Linked DNA regions of Homo sapiens. The protein of the gene in region 1 interacts with the protein of each later gene in a pairwise test. Each region holds a gene or a part of one and is shown on either strand. Other genes may lie near its edges.

Evidence for each region.
Region 2: the proteins of ASPH (region 1) and SCGB1C2 interact in binary tests that used the Homo sapiens proteins (3 or more experiments, as listed by UniProt).
Region 3: the proteins of ASPH (region 1) and PDGFA interact in binary tests that used the Homo sapiens proteins (3 or more experiments, as listed by UniProt).

What each region holds. Positions count from the first base shown.
Region 1 is NC_000008.11:61,505,054-61,508,704, forward strand, and holds part of ASPH (aspartyl/asparaginyl beta-hydroxylase), read right to left. Parts: intron 1-3,651.
Region 2 is NC_000017.11:136,032-139,681, forward strand, and holds SCGB1C2 (secretoglobin family 1C member 2 precursor), read left to right. Parts: upstream 1-1,537; 5' UTR 1,538-1,559; coding exon 1,560-1,614; intron 1,615-2,171; coding exon 2,172-2,371; intron 2,372-2,878; coding exon 2,879-2,911; 3' UTR 2,912-3,036; downstream 3,037-3,650.
Region 3 is NC_000007.14:509,750-513,400, forward strand, and holds part of PDGFA (platelet-derived growth factor subunit A isoform 2 preproprotein), read right to left. Parts: intron 2,707-3,651; coding exon 2,602-2,706; intron 1,248-2,601; coding exon 1,060-1,247; intron 1-1,059.

The DNA.
Region 1 (3,651 bases):
AGGACCCGATGAGAGATAATTTGAATCATGGGGGCAGCTTCCCCCATACTGTCCTCATCATAGTGAATAAGTATCATGAGATCTGATGGTTTCATCAGGGGTTCCCGCTTTTGCATCTTCCTTATTTTCTCTTGCCGCCACCAGGTAAGAAGTGCCTTTCAGCTGGATGCGGTGGCTCACGCCTGTAATCTCAGCACTTTGGGAGGCTGAGGACAGTGGATCACAAGGTCAGGGGTTCGAGGCCAGCCTGGCCAACATGGTGAAACCCCCATCTCCACTAAAAATACAAAAATTAGCCAGGCGTGGTAGCGCATGCCTGTAATCCCAGCTACTCAGGAGGCTGAGGCAGGAAATTGCTTGAACCTGGGAGGCAGAGGTTGCAGTGAGCTGAGATCATGCCACTGTGCTCCAGACTGAGTGACAGAGCAAGACTCCATCTCAAAAAAAAAAAAAAAAAAAAAGAAGTGCCTTTTGCCTCCCACCATGATTCTGAGTCCTCCCCAGCCATGTGGAACTGTAAGTGCAATTAAACTTCTTTTTCTTCTCAGTCTCAGGTATGTCTTTATCAGCTGCATGAAAACGGACTAATACACCTTGCCTCATCTCTTGCATTCAACACACACATGTTGATTGGCTCTTCTACAACTCCTCTGAAGGTTTTTAGAGTTCCATTGGAGTTCCATCAAGGGTAGCAAAAGACAGAAATCTATGGACTTAGGAGAAAATGACAGAATATGCATTCATTACCATGCAAAATCTAACTTGAGAAGAAAGGCAAAACCAAGGCGGGGAAATACGCTGACAAGAAAAATCAGTGAAACAGTCCACAGCTTCCACAGTTAGGCAGGCATTTTCTAGGTCTCAGTGTTGTCACCGGGATTAAGCAATGTCAGTGGGTACCACAAACGAGCCTATAATTTATGTAGAAGATGAGGGAGGAAGTGTACTCAAAATGAAAGGCAGTGCACCTATGTTCACAGCAGCACTATTCACAACAGCTAGAAGGTGAGAGCCACCCACGTATCTATCAGTGAATGAACAGACAAACAAAATGTGGTATACACATACAATGGAATATTAATTCAGCCTTAAAAAGGAAGGAAATTTTGACACATGCTACAACATGTATGAACTCAGAGGACATTATGTCAAGTAAAATAAGCCAGACACAAAAAGATAATTACTAGTTGATTCTACACATCTGAGGTCCTAGACTAGTAGTTAAATTCACAGAGAGAGAAAGGAGAAGAGTGGTTGCCAGTGGCCGGTGGGAGGACGGGAATGGGAGTTATTTAATGGGTATAGTTTCAGTTTTGCAAGTTAGAAAGAGTTTTGAGGATAGATCATGTTGATGGTTATACAATATGGATGTACTTAATGTCACTAAACTGCACACCTAAAAATGGATAATATGGTAAATTTTGTTATGTGTATTTTACTACAATTAAATAGAGAAAAAAGGGAAAGGCAAAGGAGAGCATGTGGTAGAGGAGAAAGAAAGAAGCAATACAGGAAGATGGAAATTTATGGTCTTTGAGGGGAATCCTCTTGACCTTGGCATTTATTACTTATGGGACCTAAGGTGAGCTACTTAGCATAATTGATTCTTTGTGTCTTCATCGGCATAATTGATGTGAGGATTAGCATATGATTGGCAATAGTAGATATTCAATTAATGACAGAAAAATGAAAATATAAAGAAAAATAGGGAAAAGATAAAAGACAGAGGTGAAATGTTGGGAAGTGGTATGTTATCAAAAATGACATATGCATCACTCTTTATGATGTTGTCTGCCTTCCTTTGAGACAACTAAAAACTTCCAAGGGAGATGAGATATAAAAACATCTTCAGAGCATCTGTGAAATGTAGTTTGTACAGCAATGACAAGTGATTTTCAAAGTTTTTTGGGTGGCAGAGAACCTGGAAACTACTTAAAACACTAGAAGTAATTAAAATAACTGAATAGAAAATTCTAGCCCACACAAAATGACATTTTTCACTAGATTATGATACGTATAACAAAGCCAAAGATCTAGAATTGTTTTCTGGGAAAAAGGCCTTAAGCATTCCATTCATTAAATTAAATTCCTGAGAACTGGGAAAAGTTATTAGCACCGGAACACGCTGGTCACTCATGGAACATCAGTGCATATAAAAGTAGAACTTAAGAACCACAGGCTTGCAGCTTTCCAGATACATTAAGTACAATACAGATCAGTGTAAACCATTAATTAACCAATTGTATAAATAAGAAATTTGGGGAGGTATACCAAAGGGTTGTTAATTGGCCTGTTTCAGGGTCATAAAACTCTATGGGGAAAGTGAGTGCTGTCGGACTTATTTGCCCTTCCACTTTCTTTCATACATTTCCCCAGAAAATAGCAAAGATAGTCAATAACATAATGTAGATTTTTTAATGTAGATTTCTTCTGAATTCTTAAAAAAATGGTGTCTTTCAATCAGTTATTAGAGATAGAATGACTAAAACTGTAGTCACGATTCACCTAAAAGGGGAAAATGAAGAACAATAAAACATCCTACAAGCCATGTCCAGACTTAAGTGACTCCAGGTTAAATTCGAGATGTATCACATGCTTGGGAAAGGATGTTTTTTTTCCACAACAAAGGGAGAGGAGCATAAAGATGTCAAATCGCTTCTGACTGAAAACCAAAGACTCTCATTAGAATGCAAAGAACTAGTTTTCAGGCCACTTGCTTTGTGAACAAAGCTCCATCAAATAAGATTAAGTTACACTCGAATTACGACATACAATCAGCCCTTTGGAGAAACAATCTTCAGAGCGGCCTGTGACAGAGGTCTGCCTGGAAGTACTGTTACAGCCTTGTCTAAGGACCCAGAGAAGCAGCATTGGGGGTGGGCACTGCTCTCCATCCCTGGAAGCTTGGCTCACTGTTGGAACTTCCTCCTTCCCTTCCTCTCTCTCTTTCTCTCCTCCCACCTAACCCTTTATTTTTTTCAAGACAGGATTTGCTCTGTCACCCAGGCTGGAGTGTGGTGGCACCATCACAGCTCAATGCAGCCTCCGCCTCCCAGGCTCAGGTGATCCTCCCACCTCAGTCTCCCGAGTACCTAGGACTACAGGTATGTGCCACCACATCCAGCTAATTTTTGGATTTTTTTGTAGAGATGGGGTTTCCCCATGTTGCCCAGGCTGCTCTCCAACTCCTGGGCTCAAACAATTCTCCTGCTTTGGCCTCTCAAAGAGTTGGGATTACAGGTGTGAGCCACTGTTCCTGGCCTTCTGTTAGAATTTCTTACCACTAAGAGAAGAAAGTCTCTCTCTGGGTTGTCAAAAGATATAAGAATATCTCGTCCTAAGATAAAACAGTATTCCATAATCTGTCAACTTCTCAAATTATTATAATTATAAATAATGATAATGATAAAATGGTGGCAGTGCATATTTAATAACTATAATTTGGTCACAGAATTACCATTGATATTAATAAGGCTAAGTAATGATACTAGGTGCTTATAGAGTCTTCTACCTACAAATTTTATAGATAATATCTTAGCTATCTTTGCTAAAATGTTCTGAGATAGGCAAAGGACATGACTGTGATTTTCACGCAAAGGAATCACATGGAAACAGGTTCAGATGTCTGCAGTGACACTGTGATTCTGTGGC
Region 2 (3,650 bases), on another chromosome or scaffold:
TGCACACACATCTGAACAGACACCTCACCAAAGAAGATCTACAGATGGCAAGTAAACACATTGAAACCACAATGTGGTTACAATTGAAAACCACAATGAGATAGCACAGCTGGTCTATATCTGTTAGAATTGCTAAACTCTTTTAAAAATGACAAATTGCTGAAGGAAAAACAAGAACTCTTTTCATTGCCAGTGGAACACAGCATATAAGACCAAAATACGCCACCCCAAAACCTAACCCTAACCCTAACCCCTAACCCCTAACCAACCCTAACCCTAACCCTAACCCTAACCCCTAACCCCTAACCCTAACCCTAACCCTAACCCTAACCCTAACCCCTAACCCCTAACCCTAACCCTAACCCTAACCCTAACCCTAACCCCTACCCCTAACCCCTAACCCTTACCGGTGACCCTACTGTATCCCTGACTCCTAACCAACATTGATCCCTAACCCTAAACCCCTTACTGTAACTATAATCTTCATCCCACCCTATCCCTAGCCTTAGTGCCATCCCCCAGGCTTTTTCCAGGATGGGATTTTATGTGATTGTTTCGAATAGGTGGAAATCTCTGCTCATTTAGGAGTCGTTCAATGTAACAAGGATCTTGGTCTTCACAGAGACCCTAAACGCGTGTGGCCCAGGGTCATGTGGATGCCATCAGCCACTAGGTGGCAGCAGGGGCCCTTTGGATTTGAACAATGCAGCTCAGTCAGAGGGCTGGACTGGGACACCCCTACTCATGGTCTCTCTTGGCATGGTTTTGTTTGGTGACTCCAGGTGTCCCAACCTCCTGTGTCCATTGTAATATGTCCTGGGACCATCTCCCCCAGGGCCTTCAACCTCTCCTTGCTATCCTGGCTACTGATGGAAGATGTACCTCAAGCCTGTCCCATTCCTCACTTCCTGCTGAGACCTGGCCCCAACATGGCCAGCTCTATGTTCCTCAGACCCTCTCAGGCCACCTTCTCTCTTCTAGGCACTGTCACTGGGCTTCTCCCCACCCCATAGATCCACAGCCCCCAGGTAGTCCTACAGCTGTGTCCACTCGTGCAGCCTGCACCCCCTTCCCCTACTCGGCCACCCCATCTGAGTAGTAAGGGGCCCCTGCCTGATTGGAGACCCCCAGATGCAGACCCAGATCACACAGCACACTGATAAGAGGAGGGATTCCCACCTTAAAAGAAAGGCGTGGGACCAACCCCAGATCCCACCACTCTCGGCCTCAAGGGCAGGCATGACTAGAGGCCCTTGGTGGCCAGGACCCACTGCCTTCTTCACCGATCAGTTGGCATGGCCTCTCACCAGTGTTCCCTCCTAACACACCTGTTCTCTCTCTCACACACCCTAAAGCCGCTTGCCAACCACCTGTCACACAGCCACTCCATGCCTGTTGCTGCTTGGCACCCACTGGGGGCCAGGGATGTGAACAAACCTCATCTAAGCTGGCTGCCGGGTCCTAATGGGCAGGTCCGGTCCGCCCTCTAGGAGAGGTGCTGTCCGGTGAGGCATAAAATCCCGGGATTCTGGCTGGAGGCAGCTCCTGAGACTGCCGGCATGAAGGGGAGCCGTGCCCTCCTGCTGGTGGCCCTCACCCTGTTCTGCATCTGCCGTGAGTCTGTGCCACTGGGGTTTCCAGAACATTCAGGGGCGGGGGGGAGTGGGGGGTACCTGAGAAGGTAAAATCCTGGCATCGGGCCTCTGCAGTGAACACTCCACCTGCTTCTGTCACAGAAGTGGGCAAGGACCCTGCAGAACCCGCGCCCACCCTACTCCACCCCAACCAAGGACAAAGCCCAGCTGACCCAACACCAGCCCAGTGTCTCCTACCCCAGCCCAGTCCAGCCTGACCTGACCCTTCAAGCCTCTGGTCATAATAGCCTCTCATCAGGGGAAATTTCCCCCACACCAGGAGCTTAACTTTCCTTCCCTGGTGATCCCAGGGAATGCTGAGTGGAAATTGGAGCAGCTAAGATTAAGGGGGATGTGGAGGGGTCTTCGGGCAAGGTGGAGTTGGAGGTGTTGTGGAGGAAGCCCTGGGGAGGAGAGGTGAGCATTGAAGGGGAAGGTCTGGAGACCATGGAGGTTAGAGCCCTGGGGCAGGTCCAGGGCTGTGGTTGCACCAGAGTCACCCTGTCCTGTCCTGGCATCATCTCGCTCGTGATGCAGGGATGGCCACGGGGGAGGACAACGATGAGTTTTTCATGGACTTCCTGCAAACACTACTGGTGGGGACCCCAGAGGAGCTCTATGAGGGGACCTTGGGCAAGTACAATGTCAACGAAGATGCCAAGGCAGCAATGACTGAACTCAAGTCCTGCAGAGATGGCCTGCAGCCAATGCACAAGGCGGAGCTGGTCAAGCTGCTGGTATGAGGGCGGCGGGCACCCCATTTTCTAAAGATCTGCAGCCTTACCAAGACCACCCAACACAGCACCCACACAGCCTACCCCACCCACAGACATCCACCACCCACAGACATTGCACCCGCATCAGCCAGCTCAGGTGGACACCCCAGACCTCCTGTCCACCGAGCAGCCCCCAGACTCCATAGACCTCCTCCCCAGTCTGTGGGATACTCCTCCATGCACACATGTGAACATACACAGAGATCCAAACACAGGTGCAGACATGAAATGTACACTGCGTGCACACATGTATAAACACGTTCACACCCACATGCTCACACTGGGATATGCACACACATACATGTGTGCACACCATCACATGTGCACACACACCTCCCAGCTGCTGGGAGGAGATAGGCAGCAATATGCCAGACCCCCCCCCCACTGAGGGCCTTGCTTGCCTGATGGAGCTGTGGCTCTCCACTTATTGAGCACAGCCCTCTTAGTCCACATGTGTCTGCCTTCCAGGTGCAAGTGCTGGGCAGTCAGGACGGTGCCTAAGTGGACCTCAGACATGGCTCAGCCATAGGACCTGCCACACAAGCAGCCGTGGACACAACGCCCACTACCACCTCCCACATGGAAATGTATCCTCAAACCGTTTAATCAATAAAGCCTCTTCCGCAGCTCAGGCTCCTGTCTCTGCCCCCACAGAGGGGCACACAAATGGGGACATCAGGAACACACTCGAGGCCACAGCCACACACACAGACCCACATACAGAGGATCCCACTCAAGGAGCACACGTGCAAAAGTCCCCACAGAGGGACACACAAATGGGGACATCAGGAACACAGGGCCACAGCCACACACACAGACCCACATACAGAGGATCCTACTCAAGGAGCACACGTGCGAAAGTCCCCCACAGAGGGACACACAAATGGGGACATCAGGAACACAGGGCCACAGCCACACACACAGACCCACACACAGAGGATCCCACTCAAGGAGCACACATGCGAAAGTCCCCACAGAGGGGCACACAAGTGGGGACATCAGGAACACAGGGCCACAGCCACACACACAGACCCACACACAGAGGATCCCACTCAAGGAGCACACGTGCGAAAGTCCCCACAGAGGGGCACACAAATGGGGACATCAGGAACACACTCAGGGCCACAGCCACACACACAGACCCACATACAGAGGATCCCACTCAAGAAGCACAAGTGCGAAAGTCCCCACAGAGGGGCACACAAATGGGGACATCAGGAACACACTCGGGGCCACAGCC
Region 3 (3,651 bases), on another chromosome or scaffold:
GGCGCCCTGATCTTGGACTTCCAGCCTCCAGAACTTTGAGAAATACATTTGTTGCTAATCAGCTCCTAGTGGATGGAATTCTGCTAAAGCAGCCTGAAGAAGGCAGGCACCACCCCCAACTTAAAGAAAGAGGGGCTCACCCTGGGATTCTATGGAAGGAAGTCTGCTGTCTGGCCTCGAGCCCACCCCAAGCACTCCTTCTCCTTCTCCTGGGCTGCTTTAGGGGGGAAGCCGGGGGGGCCCTCCAAAGGTCAGGCACTTCAAAAGGCAATGCAGGCTCTGAATATCCACCCCCTACTCCTCCTGCCATGCACCTCGGCCCCCACTGAAGAGCCCGCACAGGACCCTCCAGGGCCCGGGGACGCCAGACAGCTTCCGGCTAAGCAGCTCGACACCTCGCAAGGCCCAAAACGGCCCCCGCACTGTGGTCTAGGGCGTGGAAAGGAGGCCAGGCTCGTCGCCAGAGCAGCAGAGCAGAAGCCCCGGCCGGCCCTGCCTTTCCCGCACCCCCAGGTGCTCCTTCTCCTCCCTGGGCCTCAGTGTACCTGCCAGGGAGATGGGAGCGCAGCCGTGCACCCCCACCAGCCACACCAGGGGCACCTTGTGGCCTCCCAGGAGGGACCCTGGCAACCCAGTAGGGGCGACCCTCAGGCCTGCGTGGGGCAGGGCTCACCTGGATGCTGCAGTGTTGGATGCGTGAGGGACCCTGGCTGCTTGGTAGGGGCGGCCCCGGGCTCGGGTGGGGAGGGGAGGGGAGGGGCAGGGCTCACCTTGACGCTGCGGTGGTGGACGCGGGAGGGACCCTGGCTGCTAGGTAGGGGCGGCCCTTGGGCTCGGGTGGGGAGGGGAGGGGAGGGGAGGGGAGAGGAGGGGAGGGGCAGGGCTCACCTTGACGCTGTGGTGGTGGATGCAGGAGGGACCCTGGCTGCTTGGTAGGGGCGGCCCCGGGCTTGGGTGGGGAGGGGAGGGGAGGGGAGAGGAGGGGAGGGGAGAGGAGAGGAGGGGAGGGGAGAGGAGAGGAGGGGAGGGGAGGGGAGGGGAGGGGAGGGGAGGGCTCACCTTGACGCTGCGGTGGTGGACGCGGGAGGGCTGGCACTTGACACTGCTCGTGTTGCAGCAGCCGGTGCAGCGTTTCACCTCCACGCACGGGGGCCAGATCAGGAAGTTGGCGGACGTGGGGTCGACCTGACTCCGAGGAATCTCGTAAATGACCGTCCTGGTCTTGCAGACAGCGGGGACAGCTTCCTCTGCAACGGCGGGGGCACAGTGAGCGGGGACCGGCCTCTGCGACCACGGCCCCACCCCAGGGCTGAGGCGGCTCCAGCTGGGCCTGGGGGGCAACCAGGGTAAGCCACAGGCCAGGATTCCTCCCAGGCAGCAGAGGCTGAGCTGGGAGCAGAGGCTTAGGGGCTGGGTGGGCAGGAGCACCACACATCCAGAGGAGCCCAGCCCGGTGCCTGCAGGCTGGAGGGACCTGGACAGGTGGGGCCAGTGGCTCGGAGGGGAGGGGAACTTAGTCCAGGTGGGGCCAGTGGCTGGGGGTGGGGAGAGGGGAACTTAGTCCAGGTGGGGCCAGAGACTGGGGGTGGGGAGAGGGGAACCTAGTCCAGGTGGGGCCAGAGACTGGGGGTGGCAGGGGCAGAGGGGAACCTAGTCCAGGTGGGGCCAGTGGCTGGGGGAGGAGGGGGCCTTAACAGTGAATCCTACAGCACTTGCTGCATGCTCTAGCCTTCAAAAGTGGTCTGAAGGGTGCAAAATGCAGACCCCACAGCAAATGTCACCTGGGGAGGGCCTGCTTGCATCAGCTGGGACTAGCCAGCCACACATGACACTTTAAGGTGGAAGATACAAAATCCATCTTCATGGAGGAAACCACAGCTCAGAGAGGGGGGTCCACCTGCTCAGGGCCCCAGAGCCATGAGCAGCACCAGGGCTCAAACCCATCAGGTGGGACCCCCGAGGACGCGGGACTTGGGTAGAAAGCAGGGACTGGCCCCTGAACTCCCCAAACCTGCTAGTTCCTCCTCAGGGGGCTGGAGGGCCATGGGGCTGTCCTGTAAGAAGGGACAAAATATCCCCCAAATGGACGCGGGGGTGGAGCCCTGGAGCCAGGTGTGAGTGGGGCGGGGCACACGGGTGTGGTGAGGGTGTCGGGGGGCAGCCGCCGGACACAGCACGCGCGTCCCCACCAGTTCAGCAGCCGGCGCAGGAGCACGATGCCCACACTGCGAATTGGAAATTAGGCGCGACCACGTTTCCGGCAAGGCTCCTGGGGACAGGCCCCGACAAGACAGGGCGCTTAAGGAATTTATGATGGCTCTTCTCTCCTGGAAGCTCTCTTGGCCCAGACCAGGACTCCAGGAGGAGCAGGCGGGCTGGGGCAGGAGACACCCTCGAAGGAGGGAGGCCTCGGGAGAGGCCAGAGCCAGAGGCACCAGGGCCAGGCCTATTTTAGGGAGGAGGGAACGGGTGGCTTGCCTGAGGCCACTGCGCTGGGAGAGCGGGCAGCTCCTCCCCACCCGGCCCTGCCCTGCCCATCGCGGCCTCCTGGACTCACCCTGACCCGGCCCTGCCCTGCCCATCGCGGCCTCCTGGACTCACCGATGCTTCTCTTCCTCCGAATGGGCAGGGGCCGCTTCTCGGGCACATGCTTAGTGGCATGGACCCCGTGAGCTCTCAGGCTGGTGTCCAAAGAATCCTCACTCCCTGCAGGCGGAAGGAGAACACCGTGAATGCCCCAGGCCCGTGCGCTGTGCCCTGGGCCTGTCCAGCCGCACTTCCCACAGACCAGCTTTGGGAGCCACTGGGGAACAGGCACCTGGCGGCACAGCCCCTCACAGCTCCCGCCATTAGGGGCCCTCCAGGAGAACCTCGATTCCCACCAGGGCTTTCCAGAGATGCAGGGCATGAAACACTGGAAACCGCAGAAAACGCCCCGTTAGCACAGAGGTCCCCACATTCAGGGGCCCGTGACGAAGCGCAGGGCCCTTCGGGGAAGAGGTTGCAGGTGGTCTCCCCTACGGTGCCTCCTCCAAGGTAGCCCAGGTGAGGGCTGCCCCGGGGCAGGAGGGGCCTGAGGCCGCCCAGCTCCGTGCACCTCCCCGAGGGGCACAGGGCTAAGCCAGGCCCCACCTCTGTCTGGGGGCTGGAGCGAGGGAGAAGCAGAGGCCGCTGAGATTTCTGCAGGTGCCTGTACGTCTCCCTCCCTCCCCCTCACTAAAGCACTCCTGGAAGAAGTGGCCTAACCTCTGAGGGGCACTGGAAGCCGCCAGACTGGGCTGCGGGCCAGACCCCACTCATTCCTGAAATGAGTCTACTCTAGGGCCAGCGGCCATGAGGAGAGGCAGGAGGGCACGTGGCCTCTCGTGGAGGCTACACGGAGGAGTTCCCGCAGCCTGACAGAGGGAGGCGGCCTGCGGAGAGGGGTTGAGAGAAGCTGGCATCTGCGAGCCGTGTTTACAGCCAGGCGGCCAGGTGCAGGTGGGGCAGTGGCCCAGAGCCAAGACCAGCACTGACCGGGGAGCAGAACTGAGAACCTATCCCCGCCACCCCACCCAGCTGCACACACCACCCCTTCACAGGCGCTGACGGCTACAGCAGACAGGCTGGGGGAGTCTCAGGTCTCTCCAAATCCCGCAGTAGGGAGAGGAC